3 separate regions of the Homo sapiens genome follow, and all the other regions are linked to region 2. Evidence: fine-mapped expression QTL. A gene starts in region 2. Each other region holds a variant in brackets. All regions are shown on one strand. Distances are between the middles of the regions.

What was found. PIP is the estimated chance that this variant, and not a neighbour inherited with it, causes the effect.
Region 1: its variant is fine-mapped to the expression of KLRD1 in whole blood (INTERVAL, PIP above 0.99).
Region 3: its variant is fine-mapped to the expression of KLRD1 in whole blood (TOPMed, PIP above 0.99).

What each region holds. Positions count from the first base shown.
Region 1 is chr12:10,279,764-10,287,954 of GRCh38, reverse strand. LOC105369656 (a long non-coding RNA gene) reads left to right here. Exons shown (of 2, transcript XR_931353.3): 2 at 7,360-7,520. It also overlaps a transcript of KLRD1 not described here. Among named protein-coding and RNA genes, the nearest start is that of KLRD1, 24 kb to the left of the region's middle. The variant C/T (reference allele first, on the strand shown) is at 3,396.
Region 2 is chr12:10,303,710-10,311,900 of GRCh38, reverse strand. KLRD1 (killer cell lectin like receptor D1) reads right to left here and starts at 4,031. Exons shown (of 6, transcript NM_002262.5): 1 at 3,817-4,031; 2 at 2,421-2,513; 3 at 2,213-2,275; 4 at 286-437. The coding sequence starts at 3,823.
Region 3 is chr12:10,324,907-10,333,097 of GRCh38, reverse strand. It overlaps KLRD1 (killer cell lectin like receptor D1), which reads right to left. Exons shown (of 6, transcript NM_002262.5): 6 at 3,490-8,191. It overlaps LINC02617 (long intergenic non-protein coding RNA 2617), which reads left to right. Exons shown (of 3, transcript NR_159946.1): 3 at 35-238. Among named protein-coding and RNA genes, the nearest start is that of LINC02617, 9.3 kb to the left of the region's middle. The variant T/A (reference allele first, on the strand shown) is at 3,511.

The DNA.
Region 1 (8,191 bases), 24 kb after region 2:
CTGGGACTACAGGCGCCCGCCACCACGCCCGGCTAATTTTTTGTATTTTAGTAGAGACAGGGTTTCACCATGTTAGCCAGAATGGTCTCGATCTCCTGACCTCATGATCCGCCTGCCTCGGCCTCCCAAAGTGCTGGGATTACAGGCATGAGCCACTGCGCCTGGCCTGATCTTTCTTACAGAGGTAAAAATCCGTATTTAGACAGATAATTAAACTAAGTTATCCCCGTAGTTTTGTATAACCTAGGGGTGGTTTTTAAAGTCCTAGCAAATTTTTAGTTACATATTTTATTTCCTCGTTTCTCCATTTCATGCTTCTGTCTTCTAAGAAGCATAATTTAATTCGTAAAAGTATCTGTTTATATATAACAATATCTATTTATAGGTTTTATAATACTTCAGTATATAAATAATTCACTTGAAAAGGATGTTGGCACCAAAATGGATGGTCTTTTTTAAAACTTAGAATTTATTTGGATTTGTTTGAAGTTAGGTTTCATGGGAGGAAATGCTCTCATTATTTGTATAACATTTTTTTGCAACCTATCTGTGAGAGGTCTGAGTGTTAAATAAAAAAAAATTCGGAGTTATTTGTATATATGCATGTATTTGTGTATGAAACAAATACCAGCAAATACTTATTGACTATACCAATCTCATACATACCCTTGCATTCTCCCATGGCTGTCTAACTTCAAACCTGTGCCTTACAATGCATATCCATCTTTGCTTTTAGGTACAGTTTCACCACGGTTTTTAATCATCAAAAAAACACAAACAGATAAACAATAAAAAAAAAGAGGGTTTTGTTTTTGTTTTGAGACAGAGTCTCACTCTGTCACCCAGGCTGGAGTGCAGTGGTACAATCTCAGCTCACTGCAACCTCTGCCTCCCGGGTTCAAGCGATTCTCCTGCCTCAGCCTCCTGAGTAGCTGGGACTACAGGCGCACCACCACGCCCGTCTAATTGTTGTATTCTTAGTAGAAATGGGGTTTTGCCACATTGGCCAGGCTGGTCTCGAACTCATGACCTCAGGTGATCCCCCTGCCTCGCCTCCCAGAGTGCTGGGATTACAGGTGTGAGCCACTGCACCTGGTGCCCAGTGAGGTTCTTTATAAGAACAAAACTGAATGTAAACAGTTACGGGACCAGATGCGGTGGCTCATGCCTGTAATTCCAACACTTTGGGAGGCCAAGATGGGAGCATGACTTGATCTCAGGAGTTTGGGACCAGCCTGGGCAACAAAGTGAGATCCCGTCTCTATAAAAAAAAAAAAAAAAAAAAAAAAAAAGCACCATAAGCGAAATAAAATGATGATTCAAAGACTATTTTGCATTCAAAACTAATTTCTAATCAATCCTTATCAGGTAATTATTCTTTCTGCTTCTTCAATCTGCTAAATACAAGATGTCAAAAGTGAGTAGTTTCAAATGTTTGATTCTGCTTTTGGTAGATCGTAAACTTGAGTAGGTTACATAACCCCTTTAAGATTCTTTTCCATCATGTGTAAAACGTAAAATGCAACTAAATAGTTTATTGGAAATATGTTCTGAGAATGGTTTAATGTATAAACATATAGGGTATTTAACACCTAATTAGTGCTCAAAACCATTAAGAAACATATTGAGGTAGATAGGACATAAGCTATTCATTATTAGTTACAGTGAGTTTGCAGACTGAACTTTAAGCTTTCACGGAAATCTCCGGACTCTGATATGACCCTGGACCCCTGTGAGACCTCAGTCATCAGTACACTTTATGTGTAACAGGTGTGGCTGACACATCACACCGTATGGTACAGAATGTTTCCAACCACAGAGTTGCTGCTGCCTAAAATAACAGTTAACACCTACACTGGTCTTGGTGTGGCCGCAGGATGTTGGGGATAAAGTGGATGGGTAATGGGTAGAGGAAATGGCGTGTCTGGCGAAAACAGTAAGATGCTGTTGCAAACAATATTGGGAGTTGAAGCAATTTACCTGGGCAAAAAGCAGAAGACACAGCTTAAGGAGGAGAGAAGAGACCAGAACTGAGGTTTACAAGCATGGATGTGGCTGATCACTAGCACTGTAGCTGCGCTATTTTTGTTATTCCAGCAAGTGTAAACATAGGAAACATTACTAAACTTAGAGCTGTGACAATATTTACCTGTTAAGAGAAGAGGAGGGAATAGGAAAGAGTCAATCACAAAGAAAAAATAACATAAGAATCATAAAGCATTGACTGGACTGTAAATACTAGTCATATTTTCTATGAGATGATTTTTAACTGGAATTTTCTTCGGATAATGTGCTTAGAGATAGCGTGTTTTGTAGGTGGAAATAATGGGCAGGTAAAGACACACAAAAAAAACAACTTTAAGGTACCATGAAGAAAGATGTTAAATAAAACCATGTGAAAAATTATCCTGGTGACTATTGATACACAAAGGACTTATTTCATATTGGAAGCTTAAAGAAAGGAATGGTTTGTCCCTGAGTTATTTCAGAACCCTTATCATGACAGAATGGTGACTGTAACAGGAATTTTTCAGACTAGACATAAAGATGGTTCACATGAGAGGAAAAGAAAACTAGCATATGGCAAAAATAATTTCTAGAATAAACGTGACTTGACTGGCTGTGGTTTTACAGACTGTTTTTAAAAGAAGGAACCCATTTTTATCAGTCACACGACTCTCTACTTAAATTTCAATTTTAGCAACAACACAATCTAAAGGTAAGAATTTATTTTATAAATAGTAGTAAAGAATTTTGAAAATACAGAAATGATATTTTACTCCAGGTTAATATGCAACATTGCTAGCATGGTACACTGGCAACATCAGTAGAGCCAGATAATGAAGAGAAATCTCACAGGAATAGGGCATAGATTGTTCTTTTATATATAGTTCTCTCACCATACATCTAAAAACTTTTAAGTGGAAACTAAATGATGTGTAGGATACAGAGACCCTAATTTCTTTTTTTTTTGAGATGGAGTTTCGCTCTTGTTGCCCAGGCTGGAGTGCAATGGCACGATCTGGGCTCACCGCAACCTCCGCCTCCCAGGTTCAAGCAATTCTCCTGCCTCAGCCTCCTGAGTAGCTGGGATTACAGGCATGCACCACCATGCCCGGCTAATTTTGTATTTTTAGTAGAGACGGGATTTCTCCACGTTGAGGCTGGTCTCGAACTTCTGACCTCAGGTGATCTGCCCGCCTTGGCCTCCCAAAGTGCTGGGATTACAGGTGTGAGCCACTGTGCCTGGCCCAGAGACCCTAATTTCTTATCTGAAATTTGTGGAGAGAAATGTACTTTAAAATTTATTAGTTTTTATTTTAAAATATATGTGTTTATACATACATGAATTAACAGCCTCATTGGCATTTGATGATTCACGCTATAACCCAGCA[C/T]ATTAATATTTCCACAGCAAAATGTATAAAACAAAAACTATGATTAGCTAAGTTCAGGTTTTGGAACCAAACTAATGAAAACATTTTGTTTACAGAGATTTGGTTTTTAGCCTTATGGATAAAGAACTGGGGACTTATCTCCTGTGTCAGTATGTGGATTAAATTATACTCAATTCTTTGTTCAAAACACCTATTCCCCACTTACTGAGCCCCTCCACATGTGGTTTCATACTGATAATTTATCTGAGTGATTTTACACACATGTTATAGTAAACCTATGTATAGATTGGACAAGGTAAGTTGAATCTCTTCACAGAATATTGTGTTAACAAGTCTTTTGTTGTTGTTGTTGTTGTTGTTACTGTTGTTTTTTGAGAGAGAGTTTTACTCTTGTCACCCAGGCTGGAGTGCACTGGTGCGATCTGGGCTCACTGCAACCTCCACCTCCCAGTTCAGGTGATTCTCCTGCCTCAGCCTCCTGAGTAGCTGGGATTACAAGCGCCCACCACCATGCCCAGCTATTTTTTTTTTTTTTTTTGTATTTTTAATAGAGATGAGATTTCACCATGTTGGCCAGGCTGGTCTTGAACTCCTGACCTCAGGTGATCCGCCCACCTCGGCCTCCCAAAGTGTTGGGATTACAGGCATGAGCCACCATGCCCAGCCAACAAGTCTTACTTTTGATTGAGTATGAGAAGTATCTCTCCCAAAATATAATGGTTCTATGCATTGATAGATTTGGTTTCTTCCACTCTGTCAGTCACTTTTCTCTTTGTCCTCCCTGGTTTTCCCCTGTTCTGCTTGTTTCTTGGGGTGCTGATTCCTGCAACACATGTTTCACCACCTCCATGGCTAACCAGCTTCCAGGTAGGTGGAGTCAATGGAGCCACTGGGTTGAGATTTGGAAGGTAGGAAGAGGGGAGAAGCCTGTTATTTTGTCTTTCCCCTCTCTGCTTCAGGCTTTATCTCCTGCAGTGACCACACATGCTATGTACTGGTCTGTTTTATTTAATTTTAATATTTATTTTATTGTGATAGGAATACACCATGAGATCTACTCTATTAACAAATTTTGAAATGTACAATACAATATTGTTAAGTCTAGGCACAATGTTGTACAGCAGATCTCTAGAGCTTACTCATTTTGCATTACTAAAACCTTATCCCCACTCTCCGCTCCTCACTGTCCCTGGTAACCACTATTCTGCTCCTTGCTTCTATGAATTAGACTATTTTAGATGCCTCATACAAATGGAATCGTGTTTTTGTCCTTCCCTCATGCTATGTTGTTTGAACTGCTGCCAAATAGCAACTGCCTCGTGGCAGGCACCAGCCACTGTGGTGCCAGTCCCCATCAAGTGGTTCTGGTAAACCCACCTGCTCCCTTGTTTCCTCTAGCTCTGGGAATAGTACCAGCTTTCTGTTTTGCCCATATCTGAATTGTCTTCTTTCTCCTGACGGACTCTTAGATTTCTCCAACTGTTTGATAAATACCCTCCTCTGTTAACTTCCCTCTATGTAATGACTTGGCACAGAATTTGTTTTCCTGCCTGGACATTCACGAATACATCAACCTACCTTGAATAATATCTACTACACTCTTGTTTCCCTGACAATTTCTCTGTCTTTATTTCTACCTATTTCTGCTCAGTCCCTCCCTCTGATCTAGCCCCAATGCTACTTCTCAAACAAACCATTCAGTCTTAGGTTGTAGAGACTGTCCACTATTTGAACAGTTCCTTGCTCAAATATTTTAGAGACTCTCTACGTCAAACGTCGCTCATTTGACATTACTCAAATGACACCTCCTTTGGAATGCCTTCCTTGAACACATCTTCTAACTTTGTACCCACATCATTATGTATGCTCTACAATATTTCTTACAAAAGAGAAAGAAGCCAAAGTTCAGTCACAGGACCAATAACTTAAAGCCAAAATATAAAGTGGCATACCATTTTAAACATAATACTATATATGAACTTTATAGTAATTATATTTTTATTTGCCAGATGTGGTGGCTCACACCTGTAATCCCAGCACTTTGGGAGGCTGAGGCAGGCGGATCATCTGAGGTCAGGAGTTCGAGATCAGCCTGACCAACATGGAGAAACCCCATCTCTACTAAAAATACAAAATTAGCCGGGCATGGTAGTGCATGCCTGTAATCCCAGCTACTCAGGAAGGCTGAAGCAAGAGAATCACTTGAAGCCGGGAGGCGGAGGTTGTGGTGAGCCGAGATCATGCCATTACACCCCAGCCTGGGCAATAAGAGTGAAACTCAGTCTCAAAAAAAAAAAAAAATGTATGTATACATATGTGTATATGTTTTTATTTGATATTTGTAACTTTATGGAGAATGTATTTTATTATATAATGCTGACATTAAAAAATTATAGGCAATGTTAGAGAAATCAAATATTTATATTTTTATAAAAATAATGAATAGAAGAGTGACATATAACGATCAGAGTACTTTATTCTCAAATTCACAAAAATGATAAACCAGAAGATTAAAACTAGAAGAGATTAGTGGTTATTGGTAGTTTTAACAGAATTCAGATTAGAAGGCTACATTTGTATGAGAATTATTGTTTCTCAAGACTACAGAATTCTATTTATGTAACCAAAACAATTAGAATAATTCAAATACTGCCGTGTAAGTTTATGACCAAGGTTTCCCTCAATTTCCCTCTAAATTGGATATATAGTCTTGCTCTTCACCTGCTTCCCCGGAGTCTCCAATTATGTAAGTAATTCTCAGATAATCGTCTCTTAGTCATGTTCAGTCACGGGAATGTGTCATTTCAGGAATTCAAATTCCTAAATCTATATAATAACAAAATTTTTGAATTTTATGCAAAGCTAAAATTTTTCTTTTTCCTTTGGCTCCAACTGAACTCAGATGAGAAAATCAGCACAGAAAAAGGTAGTGTAGATGATTCCTCTCTTTGTCTCGGGAGAGAATCTCAGGGGGTTCTTGGATACATCCCTGCGGAGCCCTGCAACTACAACTCCTGACATGGGCAATGAACCTGCACTTGTGTGTTGTGTGGTTTTGATTCTTCCTCACCCTCAAACCAGGTGTCTCATATTTTCTGTTAGAGCGCTATATCCCACCTATCACTCTTCATGCATGGCAGCTGTCTTAGTATACTATTGCTGCTGTAACAAACAAGCACAAATTTAGTAAGAAAAACAACAAAAATTATTCTCTTACAGTTTTAGAGGGTTGGAGTCTGAAAAGTCTTATGGAGCTAATATCAAGGTTACAGCAGGGCTGAATCTGTTCCTCTCCTCATCCAGCTTCTCATGTCTGCCAGCGTTCCCTCACTTGTGGTTTTGTCTTTCCAGCTTCTGTTCCCATGATTGCACTGCCTCCTCCTTTTCTGTACTCAAATCTCCCTCTGCATCCCTTTTATAAGGATACTTGGGGTTACATTTTAAGCTGACTTTGATAATCCAAAATAATCCTTCAATCTCAAGATCCTCAATCTCTTCTCACTTCTCCTAAGTATCTCTCGCCCTATAAGGTAGCATTCACAGCTTCCAATGATTATGACCTGGATATACTTGGAGCCATTATTCAGCCTACTATAGAATCTAGGATGAGTCCAGGTTATTCCCTGCTCTCATCTGGACCCCTTTTACCTACAAGAAACATTCACACATAGTTTATTATATGGATGTGCAACGGGTTCCCAGTGGATCTTTCACAACTCTACCACCACAGGCTTCTGGGGGCAGGATTCTCAACACCTGGTTTTCAAACCACACCTCACCTCCATTCTCCATGCTTTTTTGCTGCATTCTGTGCAGCTGAGCTCTGACAACTGTATCACACAGTCTTCCTCACCCTCTGGCTTCTGTCTGTTTTCAACCATTGGAAAGCATTGGTAGGAGAAGAGAAGCTGGGATGAGAAAGTGGAAAAATTATATAATTCTCTAGCTCCTTCCTCATTTTCAGGTCCTGGAAATGGCTAGAATCTGTCCTGAACTCTTGGCATCTTCTGATACTCAACGATGGAGCACGGCGTGAACATCATCCTGCTGCCCTACACAATATTGTCTAGACTATGGGTAGCTAAAAAATCTATTTGCAATTAATAATAAAGAAATAAAAACAAAGTTCTGATTAAGTATTCTGCTGTATATTTTCCTAGAATATTGGCTACTTAAATGTTTTCCATATAATTATTAAATAAATATTTATTCTGAAGCGGTCCATCTCTATTCTGATCTAGCCCATGTTGAATTTTTTCTTCAGAAAGGAAAAGAGATTTTTCTCCTGCATTTAATCCAGTGATTATTTTTCATTTAAACATCAGGCATCTGGTTAATACACTCAAGGTGTGCAAAAAGTGTGGCTGACACATCATTTCACTGTACGTTCCTCTGTACAGAACACTTCCAACCACAGTGTTGCTAGCCCTGGAAAGAACATTTAGCACCTAGACCACCGATGTTATTGTAACGATTGTTGGTAATTCTAACTTGTGTCATGGGAAAGGAGAAAGACATTTCTGATGAAAAATAATAAAATTCTACTGCAAGAGATATTGAAAGTCAAATCTGTGTATCTGGCCCAGAAGCAGTAGGTTTTACTTAACAGAGGAGAAGGAAATCAAAACTGAGATTTGCAAGCCTGGATGTGGTGACCACTATTAACTATCACATTAGTGTCATTATCATTTGGACAAGTAGGACCACAGGTAACAACATTAGCTTCAGAATCATAAAAGGATTTTTTGTTGGAAGAGGAAAGAGGGAGGAATGTAGAGACAGATAATAATGTGAAA
Region 2 (8,191 bases):
AATGGGTAAATATAATGACCTATTATCTTCTTTGAATTCTTCCTGAAAAGTTTCTTTCACTTTATTTGGCACCTATCTTGATTTGTATTCCCATGATATAATCATTAAGGAATTTAATAAAGATTTTACAATGACTACTTTAAGGTACACAGAACAGATAACTCAATTCCAATATAACCATCCACTTACTATGTGATTAATGACTTAAACCAAAGTATTTAACTTGTTTAGATAGTATATTTTTCTAGATCAAAGAAAATGTAGAAAATCAGACTCAGCACATGCCAGTTCATCTGTGTTTTGAAGCTGAAGCAGGCTGGATTTCTGAGAAGCACAGAGATGCCGACTTTCGTTCCAAGTTTTCTGTTCACTGGAAATGAAGTAACAGTTGCACCGGTACCCAACCCATTTTTCTTGGCAAGAACAGCAGTCAGAGTCTGACAGAAAACATAAAGCATGACTAATGACACTGGAGACTAGACATTTTTTTCAATGCTATTTAATTATTCAAAAATTATTTGCTGTGTATTCTTTTAACATTCAGAATCTACTGTATACACCACACTTCAGGGGCTACTAATGTGAACTAATTAGACATGAACATGATGCTTTTTCCTCATGGAGATTATATTCTAGAGATAGAATTACAATTATATAATTTTCAATAATTTATTAACGATATTTAGTGATGATTTAGATAAGTACAAAAAAATTAAGTATGTTAAAACAGCATGTAGCAGAGTGTAAGATGAGGGGCAGTTACAAGAACCTTTTTTTGAGGAAGTGACTCAAAACTAAGTACTGTAGCATAAATAGGAGTTAACTAGATGAAAAAGATTTAAAGGAGGAAAACATTTTAGCATACTTTCTGAGTCAGAAAAGAATATGGTACATTTGGAGAATTTTGATATATGTTTGGATATCTTATTTTTGAAAAGGGAATATAAATAAACCAATTATCTTGAGGCTTAATTATACAGTTTATCAATAATAGTGTCTTCAACGTTTGTTACCCACGGTAATAAAAACATGACACGTCATAGGCACTCAAATCTTTGCCATATAAGTAGTGCTGAAGATGTTGCACTATTATTTTTATATTTTTTAATTGTTTTTGAGACAGAGTCTTGCTGTGTTGCCCAGGCTGGAGTGCAGTGGCACCATCTCAGCTCCCTTCAACCTCCGCCTCCCAGGTTCAAGTGATTCTCATGCCTCAGCCTCCTGAGTAACTGATACTACAGGTGCGTGCCGCCATGCCTGGCTAATTTTTGTATTTTTAGTACAGACGGGGTTGGCCTGTCTTGAACTTCTGACCTCAAGTAATATGCCTACCTCAGCCTCCCAAAGAGCTGGGATTACAGACGTGAGCCACTGTGCCTGGCCAAGATGTTGCACTGTAAATAAACACTATATAATCAAGATGATGGTGAGACAACTTGGGGCGCATTCCGAAAAATACATATTTAGAAAATTGAGGCCGGGCGCAGTGGCTCTGCTGGGTACGGCATAATCCCAACACTTTGGAAGCCGAGGCAGGTGGATGACCTGAGGTCAGGAGTTCGAGACCAGCCTGGCCAACATGGCGAAACCCTGACTCTACTAATAACACAAAAATTAGCTGGGCATGGTGGCGGGCGCCTGTAGTCCCAGCTACTTGGGAGGCTGAGGCAGGAAGGTGGGAGAATCACTTGAACCAGGGAGGCTGATGTGGCAGTGAGCCAAGATCGTGCCACTGCACTCCAGCCTGGACGACAAGAGCAAAACTCCATCTCCAAAAACGAAAATTGGACTTTGAGCTGGCTTTCACTGGATAAGTAAGGTTTAGAAATCTGTGCAGTATATTCTGGAAAAGGAAAAGTAGTGAGATGCAAAAGTATAGGTTATAAGCAAATTCAGGCAGGTAATGAGGATTAACTGTAACATTTCCTGTGGTTTATTTTTTGTTACTTAATTATGAGCACTCATATAGGAAACATATCTTTCGTTTCAGGCTACTATTTTCCTGATTAGTTAAATGTACAAATGATACACATTCAGTGTAATTTAATCATTTTTACATTAGATTGAGCAATGTAAAATGAGACTATCCTACACTGGTAGGCAAATTTCTATTACTAAGTATAATATTCCATCATGCCTCTCTGTGTGAAAAACAAGAAACTGCCTATTTAATCTTTTACCAATGCTAAGTTTTCCAAAAAATGTGACCTACCTTTCTGGAGTTCTATGTTGGGTCCTGGAGTAAATGCTGGCTCAATACTCAGTTTAGTAAAAGCTATAAGAAATGATTAGAAATTTGTTTAATTAGGTATGGGTTTATGAAATACTAAAATATTACACATTAGCAAGATGAAGCCTTTATTATTAAATGATGTCTTCACAGTTTTGATTTTTATGGAGACTTGCTTAGAAAAACTTACAATTTTTCAACAAAATTCCCAACGTAGACATCAACGAAAGGCATATTATCCCTAAGGTCCCAGAAATTAACCTCCACAGAGTGGTCTTAAACACTGTAGAGAAAGACAGACAGAGTAATGACTTAAAGAGCAAACTCAGGAGCTGAGTTCTTAAAAGCAGAAACTAGTGACGGAGAATCCACAACATTCTTTCATTTGATAACGGAGTCATCTTGCCAATAAAACACTGAAGACTTTCCAATCGGGACTTCACCCAATACCAACATTTTTATGTGATGTATCTTATTCTTCAGGAAGATTATTCAAACATTTTCTTCTCTACCAGCTCTGTTGCAGTAAAGTGAATTTACCATTTATTTTAAATTGGCAGAGGTGCTTAAAGATCTGGAGGTAGAAGATATTAACAAGCACCACGTTGTGTTTTATGGACTTACATAACAGGCATTTATTTTTATTCTCTCAACAAAATCACAAGATAGATAGTATGGTTCTCATTACATAGATGAGAAAACATAAGGTCCAATAATAATGTTATTTTCTCAAGGTATCAAAGCAAGTAAGTATCCAAGTCAGAAATCACATGAAAGTGTGTCTAGCTCAAGAATCTTTCATTCAACGTAGTCTACCATTGTCACAATAATACTAGTTGAGAGTATGCCCTCTCCTCATCTCAGTGCAGGTTTTGCTCTGATAAATGTCTAGCTGCTCATTGGTTCGTAGAGATATTATAGGGAAAAGAAGACATAGGAACATTCTGGACTTGGTGTGATAACTGATAACAAATTGATGGGTAACAACTTTGAGGCCTGGCTTCATTTCACAGTATATTGAACATACATAAACAATCCTTTTTCCCCTAGAACATTCCATTTGTTCATACTCAAAATTACTTGCTTTTAGGCCTTTCACCTAAAACATTTCAACATTAGGAGATTCTGTGCTAACGTGAACACACTCTCAAAGAGTGATGTCATTAACAACAGTACAATGTGTCAAACTGTTCATTTGTGTAATTTTTGGATGTCACAACATAAATAGTCAATTAAAACCTTTTCAGCATTGTGTCATTAATATTTGGCATTTTCTATTGCTATACTAGAACACTGTTGCTCACAATTTAACCAGGCTAAAGTTCAGTTCTCACTCAGAATTTAAAGGTAGCCCTGTCAGAAACCACTCTTCAAACCTGTGGAAAAAACTTCATGAAATCATGTCTAAGTTATACAATGAAGAATCAGGAAAATATAATGAATGTGGAAAGTGCTAATGCATGAAAATCCTAAAAACATCCACTGTTAATCATGTCCTTTTCTCTTAAAGCATTACCCCAAAATCAGCCAATCCAAGAAATAGCTTTTCTGGTTATTTTTAATTTAGTGACTGAAATCACACATACCTGCCATGAGAAATTATGTTCCAAGAGCGAAGTAGAGAAGGCACGATGTGTACTTTTTCAGAAAGAACAGCGTTGAATTGTTGAAGCTGAGCTGGAGATTAAAGAATCTGAAAGTTGAGTATGAAGAAATTTAGCAAAAATAGAGAATGAAAAATTGTGTATTTAAATGATGTTCTTGAATCATCTATTGGTGAGACATGTATTATAGTGTGAATAAGAAGCAGTAGAATCACAAGCCTCTGAAGTGTTCCAGGAACCACAATACAGGAAATTCTCACAGTACTTTTGCAATATTAACACTTTGGCAAGGACTAAAGAAGGTGAGAGGAGGTCAGAGGGAGTTTTGTTGCTGTTTTGTTTTTTATTGTTTGAAAATCAAATTCATTTTAAAGGGTTATCTGGAAAATGAAGGAAATGATGGGCAAACCAAAGGTAAATTTACTTAGCATAACAAAATTACTTACAGAATTTTCCTCTTTTAATAATAAACATTTATTATTTACCTTGTACTTAACACAATTTAAAGCACTTGGCATATCTTAGCTCATTTATTTCTGTAAATGGCTTGATAGTAAAGATATATAAATATCTTCAATCTATCAAAGAGAAAACTGAGGCATACAGAGCTAAGTAATTTGCCCAAGGTCACATAAATTGGGATTTCCATGTCTCACTCTGTTCTTCTGATCTCTACCTAATTATCCTGGCCACGACAGGCAAAGTTCAAAAAAGTAGAACTGGATGGGTTTCCCACTTGGACGCCTCATTCACGTTAGCCTTAAAAGCTTTTTTCAACACCTCAATTTTCATTTTCTTAAAGTTCTTTAAGCACGACTTCAGCTTCTTTATTTTCCTTATTTTTACTAATACATTATTATATTGTTTAGTGTGTTATCTAATTCAGATACTATACTGATACTTCGATATACACTTTTTCATCTACAGAAGAGTAACCTTGTTAATAGGAATATCAAATGTGGAACAGGTCAAATTTCCAATGTGGAAGAGATTGGCTATAATAAGAATCTTGAAAGGAGAGATTTCGATCCATGATTTAGTATCTGGAAATACAATCTACCATGCACCCCCATACAAAAGCAGACACTCAAATAAACGTTTTGTGTATTATATTTTGTATATTGTTTATGTTCAAGCATTATAATATTACTATAGATAAACCCTTTTGTAAAAGATGGGCTTTCAACCAACAACAGAAAAAAATGAAAGAAAAGACTACTTTGACTTCTCAGTTTTTATGAAGTCAAAACTTTCCATCTTTTCAGTTTGCATTGTGTGCCTAGAGCTGCTTTCATTGCACCAACAAATTTGTTGAGCTATAAATCCTCACTGAAGAATATAAGCGTAAAATCTACTTCATCCAGACTGTATGCAAATCTTAGTTGAAGTGATTTATTTAAAAATCCTTTGCTTACTTGAAATCTATTCATTTTTAGTGTTAGAAAAAGCTGGTCTGGAAGAAACCTGTCTGATACTATTTTTCCCCCATGTAAAATTGCCTCAAAATATAGGAGATTAGGGGTTTGCTTTTAGTTTTTCTCTTGAGAGAGTACAAATTTATGACAGAATGTGCAATAGGGATTATTACTACACTTTCATTACTAACACAACCACCTTTATTTGGAAGTTAGAGGTTCTAAGTTTTTAGAACCCTGTTTGGTGAGAATACGTCCATCAGTCATTGTCCTTTTTTTCATCTTAGTTCACTGACTTAGAAATAAAAATCCAACAAATACAAGTTTACTTCAAGAACTCCAGGCTTAAATATTTAAGATACCTAAACACACACACACACACACACATACACACACACAGTAAACATATATGTATATACCTCTTTAACTCTTTCTGAGCTGCCAACTCTGATTGTTCTTTTTTTGTTTGTTTTTGTTTGTTTGTTTTTTGAGATGGAGTCTCTGTCACCCAGGCTGGAGTGCAGTGGCTCACTCGGCTCACTGCAAGCTCCGCCTCCCGTGTTCACGCCATTCTCCTGCCTCGGCCTACCGAGTAGCTGGGGCTACAGGCTCCCGCCACCACGCCCAGCTAATTTTTTGTATTTTTTTTTTTTAGTAGAGACGGGGTTTCACCGTGTTAGCCAGGATTGTCTCGATCTCCTGACCTCGTGATCCGCCCGCCTCGGCCTCCCAAAGTGCTGGGATTACAGGCGTGAGCCACCGTGCCCGGCCTCTGTTCTTTCTATTTATTTTTGTACGTAGACAGGTGAATGATTTCCATGTACTGTATCTCTCCCACTCATCTCCACTTGTTCCTGAAGTTATCATTGCCTCGCCTATGTCCCTTGGAATATTTGGGGAACTATGGCCAACTAGTTATCTGTATAGCTGTATCTATGGGTTCTTTTTTTCTCCAATAACTGCTGAAAGCCTTGCTGTTCTCAGACATGCTAATCCGGAAGTGCTGAATAATCATCACCAGAATGGGCGTCAACAAACGAATCTTGTGATTTGCTATACAGTCCAGCAGTCTCAGCCCTAAAGTCAGGTAATTCTGAACATTGTGTTTTGCCCAGTTCCCAGAATTACTCAATAGTGTTATGTTCCAGTCACCTCCTCTAGAAGCTAGATTAAGAAAATAACCTTTATTGCGTTCCACTTTCCCTTTCCTATTACATTTCCTTTCCTACATTTATTGCATACACAATTCCAAATAAAGTTTCTACTCAAAGTATTCTCTGAGTGTGCTGCCGAGAGAAACCAGACTAAATTCCGCTGAAATATCCAGCTTCACTTACATAAATTTGCTTTTGAAAAGTTAGGTATCCTGCCAAAAGAACGTCTCTCTTTGCAGGACTTTCCATCCCCTAGTATCCATTGCAGGAAGATGCCCTCTTCCTCCCCTGCAATTTACTAGTGCCCTTGGTAAGAGCAAGTGATGACTTCAATAGCTAAGTCAACTTTTAAACCTTAGTCAAAAGCCAGGGAAAAGAAACTAATGTTCACTTAACATATAAACAGTGAAGTCTTTTCCCTACCTAAAAATGTATAACTAAAATGTTGCAGAACAAAATAACAGTATACGTTCTAGTATCCCCAAGGGAAAAATTTATTTTGATCTCACTGCTTTTAGAAAATGCATTCTTTGAGCGGAAAGAAAATTGCTCACATCAGGCTGCAAATTATTCTTTTAACAGAGAGAGAGGGCTCCCTGAGAAAAAACAAAAGACGTTACTGACCTGGTAAAATCTCATTGTAAACATGCTAATAACAAACCTACTAGCTATAGTGGTTTCTTATATATAGTGTGTTTTGCTTGCAAAATCCTTATCAATGGAATGATTTTAGCAGGATGTATTAGATTGTCTAAAATTGTTAGTGGTAAAATCAAATAAAAAAATAAAACTAAGGCTGGGCATAGTGGCTCACGCCTGTAATCTCAGCTCTTTTGGAGGCCAAGGCAGGTGGATCACCTGAGGTCAGGAGTTCAAGGCCAGCCTGGCCAACATGGAGAAACCCTGTCTCTACTAAAAATACAAAATTAGTCGGGCATGGTGGCACTCACCTGTAACCCCTGCTACTTGGGAGGCTGAGGCATTAGAGTCTCTTGAACTTGATGAGCTGAGATCGCACCATTGCACTCCAGCCTGGGTGACAAGAGCAAAACACACTATATAAAAAAAAAGCATAAAACTAGAATCTGTGGGTTTATGGAGGCTGGCTTCCTGGAAAAATGTCACATAAGCTATGTGTAACCATAACCATGTAACCATCTGAGTATAAAATGGAGATGTGTCATAACCAAAACATCTCCTTTTGTGTAAACGGTGCAGCCACAAACACCATTAAGAGACCTCATATGTTTATCTGTTTGTCTGGGCCAGAGTGTGTCCTAAGGGGAAAGTAAGAATGAGTGGGTGCTTTTGCAGGCCTGGGTTTTCCACTGTTTTGTCTGCATCTCACAATTATTGTATAACTGAAATTATGAGTAAAGCATGATACTGGGTGAAATCTCTGAGGATGCTTGTGATACTGATTTGACAATCCAATCCTTTATGTTACCTTCTTGAAGAACTGGTTAAGTTTTGTCCACATAGATAATGAGAAATATACATACAATTACATGTATAGAAGCAAACACTCCTTGCCTTTCATCTTATAGCCCAAGTTATCATTGCCCCTCTCTTATATCTAGGAACCTTTGTTTTACTTAAACAGACTTTTGCATCTGTAGGCCTTGGGACTTCTTTTCCCCCTAGATCTGCTCAAAACTTTGCCACCCTCATACCAATGGATCTCAGGACTTGATATATAAATATCCCAAATTATTTTGCTTATCTTATATGCAGGGGCTATTTGGGGATGCATGCCAGAAAAAGAAATGTGTTGTTGGGGCTCAGGAC
Region 3 (8,191 bases), 21 kb before region 2:
CACCCTTATCTCCCTTTGCTGACTCTCTTTTCAGACTCAGCCCGCCTGCACCCAGGTGAAATAAACGGCCATGTTGCTCACACAAAGCCTGTTTGGTGGTCTCTTCACACGGACGCGTGTGAAATTTGGTGCCAAAACCCGGGTACATCTTCCTGAATCAGGCTTCTGAGAACTGTTCCACTTTGCAGTCCTGTTGGATCTATATCTTGAGAAATAAATTAAAGAGCTTTTCCCTCCACAGTGACTCTTCGTATATTTGTAAACAAGTTTGGTTTTATTTGTTTTAATCATTTTGATTGAAATGTAGAACTAGAAACAAAATGATGGTGTCAAAAATAGTTTATTAGTTGTTAAGTTTTTAGGGAGTCAAAAGTTATATATGGATTGTCAACTGCAGAGGAGGTCAGTGGTCCTAATGCCCACATTGTTCAAGGTTGACTGTATGTGTGTAGACGTATATTTTTTTCTAGTTAAGGAGATAGCCATACAGTTTTACTTTTCTCATGAGCTTTATTTGTTCAATTTTTGTGAATGTTTCAGGTGCATTTGGAAAAAAATATATTTTATATTATCAGTGCATAGTGATCAATATGTATTCAAAATATCTGCTATACTATCTTATTTAGATCTTCCGGAAAATAACTTATTTTTGCCCACACTTTCTGCCTTATATTGAGAGTGGTATATTAAAATCACCCTGTATTAATATGTTATGGTCTTTTTTTTTCTTGCATCTCTTGTAATTTGTATTTTATATAAATAATCAGTGTATTAATTACTACATAAATTCTTAACTATGTACTCTTCATTGCAGTATGTAGATTTTAATATTATACAACATCTTTCTTTGCCTCATTTAGTTCTGTTTTTATGTCTACTTCTTTGGCATCAGAATTGCAACCCCTTTCTTATTGCTAACATTCATCTTGTAAATCTTTGTTCATTATTTTACTGTGGTATACTATTACCTCTCACAGTTCAACTCCTGTTTCATACCAACCTTATTATTTTTTTGGCATTTGTGGTCTTGTTTTTATGATTGCGTTAGAATGTCTAATTCAATTTGCAGTGTTTATTACACTTTTCATCTGCTTAGTGGTTGTTTCCTTTTTTGAGTGAGTGATTTTTCAAAAGAAAAATATTTTTATTTACATTATCTGAAGTTTTAAAGAGGTTTCACATAAATATGGTCTGTTTTTTCCTATTCCTGTTTCGTGGACAAGGAACCTAGTTAGAGAGCTCCCTCTTCTGTCAGTTCTGTCCTATTCAGCATAGTGTCCTCTATGGGTGGTGGTGATGATGGGATTGGGAAGGGCAAATGATAGTCATGTCTTTTTTCTCTTTCCTTTCTGCAGGATTCTTAAGTCCCTCACATTACTTATTTGCTTTGATAGTCACATTTCTAAGGAGTGTCACTCCTTTATTTTCTGCTTCTCTCCAAGAAACCATTGTTTTCCTTTCCAAGTTTTCCACTTCTGGTCTTCAGTTTCAAGCCTTTTCCCAGTACTATGAACTACCAAGTCCAAAATTGTGTTAAGTATTCTGGCATTGATTGTTGAAGTTTTATCTTTCAGGGTTTATTGTATCTGTGATTCATTTATGTCCTCTAGTCTTCTCTTCTGAGTATGTTAAAGACTAATCTCCCTATCCTGCACCGCAGGTATTCAGTGGTAGGCAGGAGCGAGTGTTCTTTTGCAATATTTTTTCTCTATTTATAGGTAATTTGAAGGTTGTGGTACTCTATGTGTCCTAGAGATGTTGAAAGGATAAGGTATTATGTGGTTTTATTTGCTTTTCTTATTAATTTTATGAGTTTGGGGGAGAGATAGGAGATATCTGGGATTAGACAACCATCTCTGCAACGTGAGAAACTGAGGATTTAGCTACTGTTATTTGTTAAAGTGCCCTTTCTCTTAAATCCTTACTCTGAAATCTATTTCATACTTCAAACCTGTCAAAGGTTGTATGGAAGACTTATTATAAGCTCTCAATAAATAAAAATTCTAAAATGTTAACCTCAGGTGACTGTGTTCTTAATGTACAGGCTTACTTTCTTGTAGCCTGTCTGTGTAATTTATTTAGTATTTTAACAAACAGCTGTCACCTATGTTGGCTGAAAAAATGCAAGTCTAACCATTTTAATGTTGGAGCAATTAAAACCATGTATGAAAAAAATATTACATTGGATTTTACAACATATGTGCATCATAGCTAGAAACACTTCTAAGAATATATTTAAGAAAACCTCAGTTGGCGAGTAGAAAATATCAGAAAGCCTACTTAGTACTATATGGGATTGTGTTATCATAGCTCATACAGGATGTTTGGTGGCGTTGTGTACAGTGGTATTTGTTCTCTCCATCATGAGGTAACTCCAGCCACAATTTTTTCCATTTACGCATGGTAATGTTTTGTCCATTTAAGATGCAATTAAATTTCATTGTATTGTATTCCAGTTTAGAAATACAGCAAATGTTTTTATATATACATTAAATTTAAAATATATACATATACATACACATAAATTATAAATATGTATCTTATTTTTATATATTTAAATTATAAAATAAATGGTGGAGTAAAATTAGCAAGATGACAGAGTGGGAAGCCCTGGTCTCTTTTCTCTCTACAAATGCACCAATTCAACTAAAAATTCATAGACAAATTTTCTTTGTGGGAAATTAAGAAACTAGTTGAGATGCTCCAATGCTGTTGGTGAAACTACTCATGTTGAAGCCTTAGGGAAATCTAAGGTACACTCCTTCCCTAATTCCTGCCCCCAGCACAGTGCCAAAAAACCAGGGAGAAACTCCCCTGCTCCCAGCTTTGCTCTTGGTTAATAAATGATGGATGGCATGTCCAATTCCCCAATTTTTCCAGGGGCTACTCCTAAGACTGGCTTCTCTCTAGCCTGTCTCAGTGTACTGATAGAACCAAGCATAGCCTGGCTGCGTGGGACCAGCAAGAACATAGATGGTGGGGTGAGCTGGCAGTTTCAACCACTCCTTGGATCAAGATGGAGTGAGTGGACCAAAACCTTTAACTCTCAGCTTCTCCTTGGGGGAAAAAGTTGAACTAAACAACTGATAATCCATATTTTCTGGAGATTGCCTGAGGAGCTAGCTTTATTCCTGTTTATCTCAGAGCACTGACAGGACCTGGGATATTCTAGATGCCTGGAATCTACCAAGAAAAAAAGAAAGCCAGTTGGACTAGCATGAAGGTTGAAGAAGACTGCAAAAATCCTTCGCCAAATAATAACTAAAAGACAACAAAAAATGCCTTTACTGATATTATAAAAAATAGACTTTAAGTCAAAAATTGTCACAAGAAAAAAAGAAGGATATTACATAATGATAAAGGCGTCAATTCACATTGGAGGATACAATAATTTTAAATATATATGCACCCAACATCAGAGTATCTAAAGGTATAAAGCAAACATTGACTGAACTTAAGGGAGAAATAGATAGCAATACAATAACAGTAGGAGATTTCAGTGCTCACTTT[T/A]AATAATGGATAGAACAACCAAACATAAAGGCAACAAAGACCCAGATGACCTGATCAACACTGCAAGTCAAGTCACCTACAGACATGTGCAGAACATTCCATCCAACAGCAGCAGAGTATACATTCTTCTCAAGTGCACATGGATCATTCTGCAGGATAGATCATATGTTAGGTCATAAAAGAAGTCTTAAGAAAATTAAGAAAATTGAAGTCATATCAAGTATCTTTTACAGCATCAAGGGAATGAAACTAGAAATCAGTTGCAAAAGGAAAACTAATAAATATGTGATAATTTAACAATACATTTTTGAACAACCAATCTGCAAAGAATAAATCAAAAGGGAAATTTAAAAACACATTAGAATAAATGAAAACAAAAATAAAGTCTAACAAAACTTATGGGATGTAGTAAAAGTAGGGCTAAAAGAAAAGTTTATAGTGATGAATATCTGCATTAAGAAAAAAGAAAGGTCTCAAACAATGCACTTTATACCTTGATATGGTTTGGCTGTGTCCCCACCCAAATCTCATCTTGAATTGTAGCTCCCATAATTCCCCCATGTTGGTGGAGGGACCCAGTGGGAGATAATTGAATCATGGGGGTGGTTTCCCCCATACTGTTCTCATGGTAGTGAATCAGTCTTATGAAATCAGATGGTTTTATAAGGGGAAACCCCCTTTGGCTTGGCTTTCATTCTCTCTTGTCTGCCGCCATGTGAGACATGTGTTTTACCTTCTGCCATGATAGTGAGGCCTCCCCAGCCACGTGGAACTGTGAGTCCATTAAACCTCTTTTTCTTTACAAATTACCCAGTCTCTCAGTTAAGTCTTTATCAACAGTGTGAAAATGGACTAATACATATCCCAAGCAACTAGAAATGTAGAAAAGAACAAACAAAGTTCAAATTTAGAAGAATAAAGAAAATAATAAAGATTAGTTCAGAAATAAAATAGTGAATGGAAAGGATATATAAAAAGTAAACAAAACTAAGAGTTAGTTTTTGGAAAATATAAATAACTTGACAAACCTTTAGCTAGACTAAGAAAAAGAAGAGAGGCCTTAAATAAATGAAATCAGAAATAAGACATTGCAACTGATGCCACAGAAATATAAAAGATGGTAAGAGACAACTAAGAACAATTATAGGCCAACAAATTGGATAACCTAGAAGAAATGAAAAAATTCACAAAGACAAGGACCTACCAAGACTGAATTATGAAGAAATAGAAAATATGAGCGTATCTATAACTAGAATGAAGATTGAATCAGTAATCAAGAAACTTACAACAAAAAAATTCCCAGGACAAGATGGCTCTTCTGGTGAAGCCACCAAATATTTAAGGAGAAATTAATGGCCATCTTTCCCAAGCTATTATATAAAAATTTAAAAAGAATAAATACTTTCAAACTAATTTTATGTGGCCAGCATTACCATTACACCAAAGCTTGTCAAAGATACCACAAGAAAACTATAAGCCAATATGTCTAGTAAACGTAGATGCAAAAATCCTCAACAAAGTAGTAGCAAAATTAATTCAACAGTACACTAAAAGGAGTATATGCCATAAGCAAGTGGCATTTATCCCTGGGGTGCAAGGATAGCCTAACATACAAAATCAATTAATGTAATATACCACATTAATAGAATGAAGGATAAATGTCACCTGTGCATCTCAATAGATTCAGAAAAAAAGTTTTCACAAAATTTAATACCCATTTTATGATGATAACTCCTGCCAACCTAGAATTTGAGAAAAATATTTCAACATTTTGAAGGCCCTATATGTAAAGTGCATAGCTAATATCATGCTATGGAAAAAGCTGAACTTTTCCTCTGACATCAGAAACATGGCAAGGATGTTTGCACTTGCCATTTCTATTTAACCCTTGTCCTACTTAAAGCTCTTAGGCAAGGAAAAGAAATTAACAACATACAGATTGTAAAAGAAGAAGTACAATGGTCCCTGTTTGCCTATGGCATGCTCTAAAGAATCCACAAAAAAGCCTCCTAAAACCAAGTAAAGTTGCAGGGTACAAAATCAACATGCAAAAATCCTCCTATATTCATTTATTAAAAGACTTCATATAGTTAAAATATTTGTATTTCACAATGTGATCTGCAGATTTAGTGCAATACCTATCAAGACCTCAATGGCATTTTAGAATTAGGAAAACAATGATACTAAAATATACATGGAACCACAAAAAGCCCTGAATAGCCAAACAAATCTTGAGCAAGAAACAGAAGGCCAGAGGCCTCAAACTTCCTGATATCAAAATATATTACAAAGCTACAATAATTGAAACAATATGGCACTGGCATAAAGATGAACATATAGACCAATTAAACAGATTGGAGAACTTGGGAATAAACTTTGCAAATATGGTTAAACGGTCTTTGGGTGGCAGGACTATTTAAGGGGAAATGACAGTTTCTTCAACAAACAGTGACGGGAAAAATGAACATCCATATTGCAAAGAAATTGCTTATCTTACACCATATGCAAAAATAAATTTCAAATGGATTAAAAGCCTAAATGTAAGTACTGAAAATGTAAAGCCCTTCAAAGAAAACATAGAGGAAAACCTTTTGACATTGGTTTTGGCAATGATATCATCAATCTGACACCAAAAGCACAGGCAACAAAAGCAAGAATAGACAAGTAGGACTATAGCAAACAAACAGCTTGTTCGCATCAAAGGTGTGAAAGGAAAATATCTTGGGCCCCCAAAATCACTCAACAAAAGGGAAAATTCAAGCTGGGAACTGCTTAGGGCAAAACTGCCTCCCATTCTATTCAAAGTCATCTCTTTGCTCACTGAGATAAATACGTATCTGATTGCCTCCTTTGGAAAGGCTAATCAGAAACAAAAAGATGCAACCATTTGTCCCTTACCTGTGACCTGGGAGCCCCCCATTCTATTCAAAGTCATCTCTTTGCTCACTGAGATAAATGCATATCTGATTGCCTCCTTTGGAAAGGCTAATCAGAAACAAAAAGGTGCAACCATTTGTCTCTTACCTGTGACCTGGAAGCCCCCTCCTTGCTTCCAGTTGTTTCACTTCTGCTTTGAATTGTCCCACCTTTCTAGACCAAACCACTGTTCATTTTACATATGTTGATTGATGTCTCATGTCTCCCTAAAATGTATAAAACCAAACTGTGCCCTGACCACCTTGGGCACATGTCAGCAGGACCTCCTGAGGTGAGGCTGTGTTATGGGCATATGTTCTCAACCTTTGCAAAATAAACTTTCTAAATTAACTGAGACCTGTCTCAAATTTTCAGGGTTCACAAAGGAAATAACCAATGGAATGAAAGGATGATCTACAGAATGGGAGAAAATAATTGCAAATCATATATCAGAAAAGGAGTCAATATCCAAAACATATAAAGAACTCCTACAACTCAATATTAAAAAAAACACAAGTAACCCAATTAAAAAATGTATCAAAGACTTGAATGGTCATTTCTTCATAAAAAACATACAAAGGGTCAATGGGCATATGAAATGATGCTCAATATCACTAATCATCAGGGAAATGCAAATTATAACCACCAAATATCATCTCTCACTTATAAGGATGGCTATTATCAAACAAATGAAAGACAAGTGTTGAGAAGTACGTGGGGTAATTAGACCCCTTGAACACTTTGGTGGGAATGAAAAATTGTGCTGCTTCTGTGGAAAACAGGATGGTGATTTCTCAAAAAATTAAAAATAGAACTACCATATGATCCACCAATCCCCTTTCTGGGTAATTATGCAAAAGAATTGAAATAAGAATCTCAAAGAAATATTAGTATACTACTGTCCATTGCTATACTAGTCACAGTAGCCAATGTGTACATACACATACAATAGAATATTATCCAGCCTTAAAAATGAAATCCTGCAATATGTAACAATGTGGATGAAACTTGAGGACATTATGCTAAATGAAATAAACAAGTCACAGGATAAATACTATATGATTCCACTTACGTGAAATATCTAAAGTGGTCAAGCTTATAAAATCAGAGAATAGAATGGTGGTTGCCAGGAATGGAGAGAGGAAAAAATGGGACGTCGTTAATCAAAGGGCATAAAGCCTCAATTATGCAAGATGAATAAATTATAGAGATCTACTATACAACATTGTACCTATTGTTAATAATACTGTACTGTAGACTTGAAAATTTGTTAAGAGGATAGATCTTATGTTGTATTTACCTCAATAAAATAAAATTTTAAAAAATTAGCAAAGCATCTGCAAAGATACGTAAAAAAGATAACATGAACAACTGAGGTTTATAACTGGGAAATAAAAACTATCTGATTTCAATCGAGGCAGAATAAAACATTTAATAAAAGCATATGTCATATGTACTCCTTATAAAAATTCTCATCAGACTAGGAATAGGAGGGAACTTTCTCAACCTAGTAAAGGTCATTTATGAAAATCCTACAGCTAAAATTAAGTATAAAGGTAAAAAAAGTGAATATTCATGCTCTAAGATCAATAGCAAAACAAGGGTGTTTACTCACCACTTGTATTCAACTTTGTGTTGAATATTCTGGCCACTGTGACAAGGTGATAAAAAGAATTAAAGGCACACAGTTTTCAAAAGAAAGAGGTAAAAACTGTCTTTATTCATCTATGCAGATAACCCAATGAAATCTACAGAAATGCTGCTA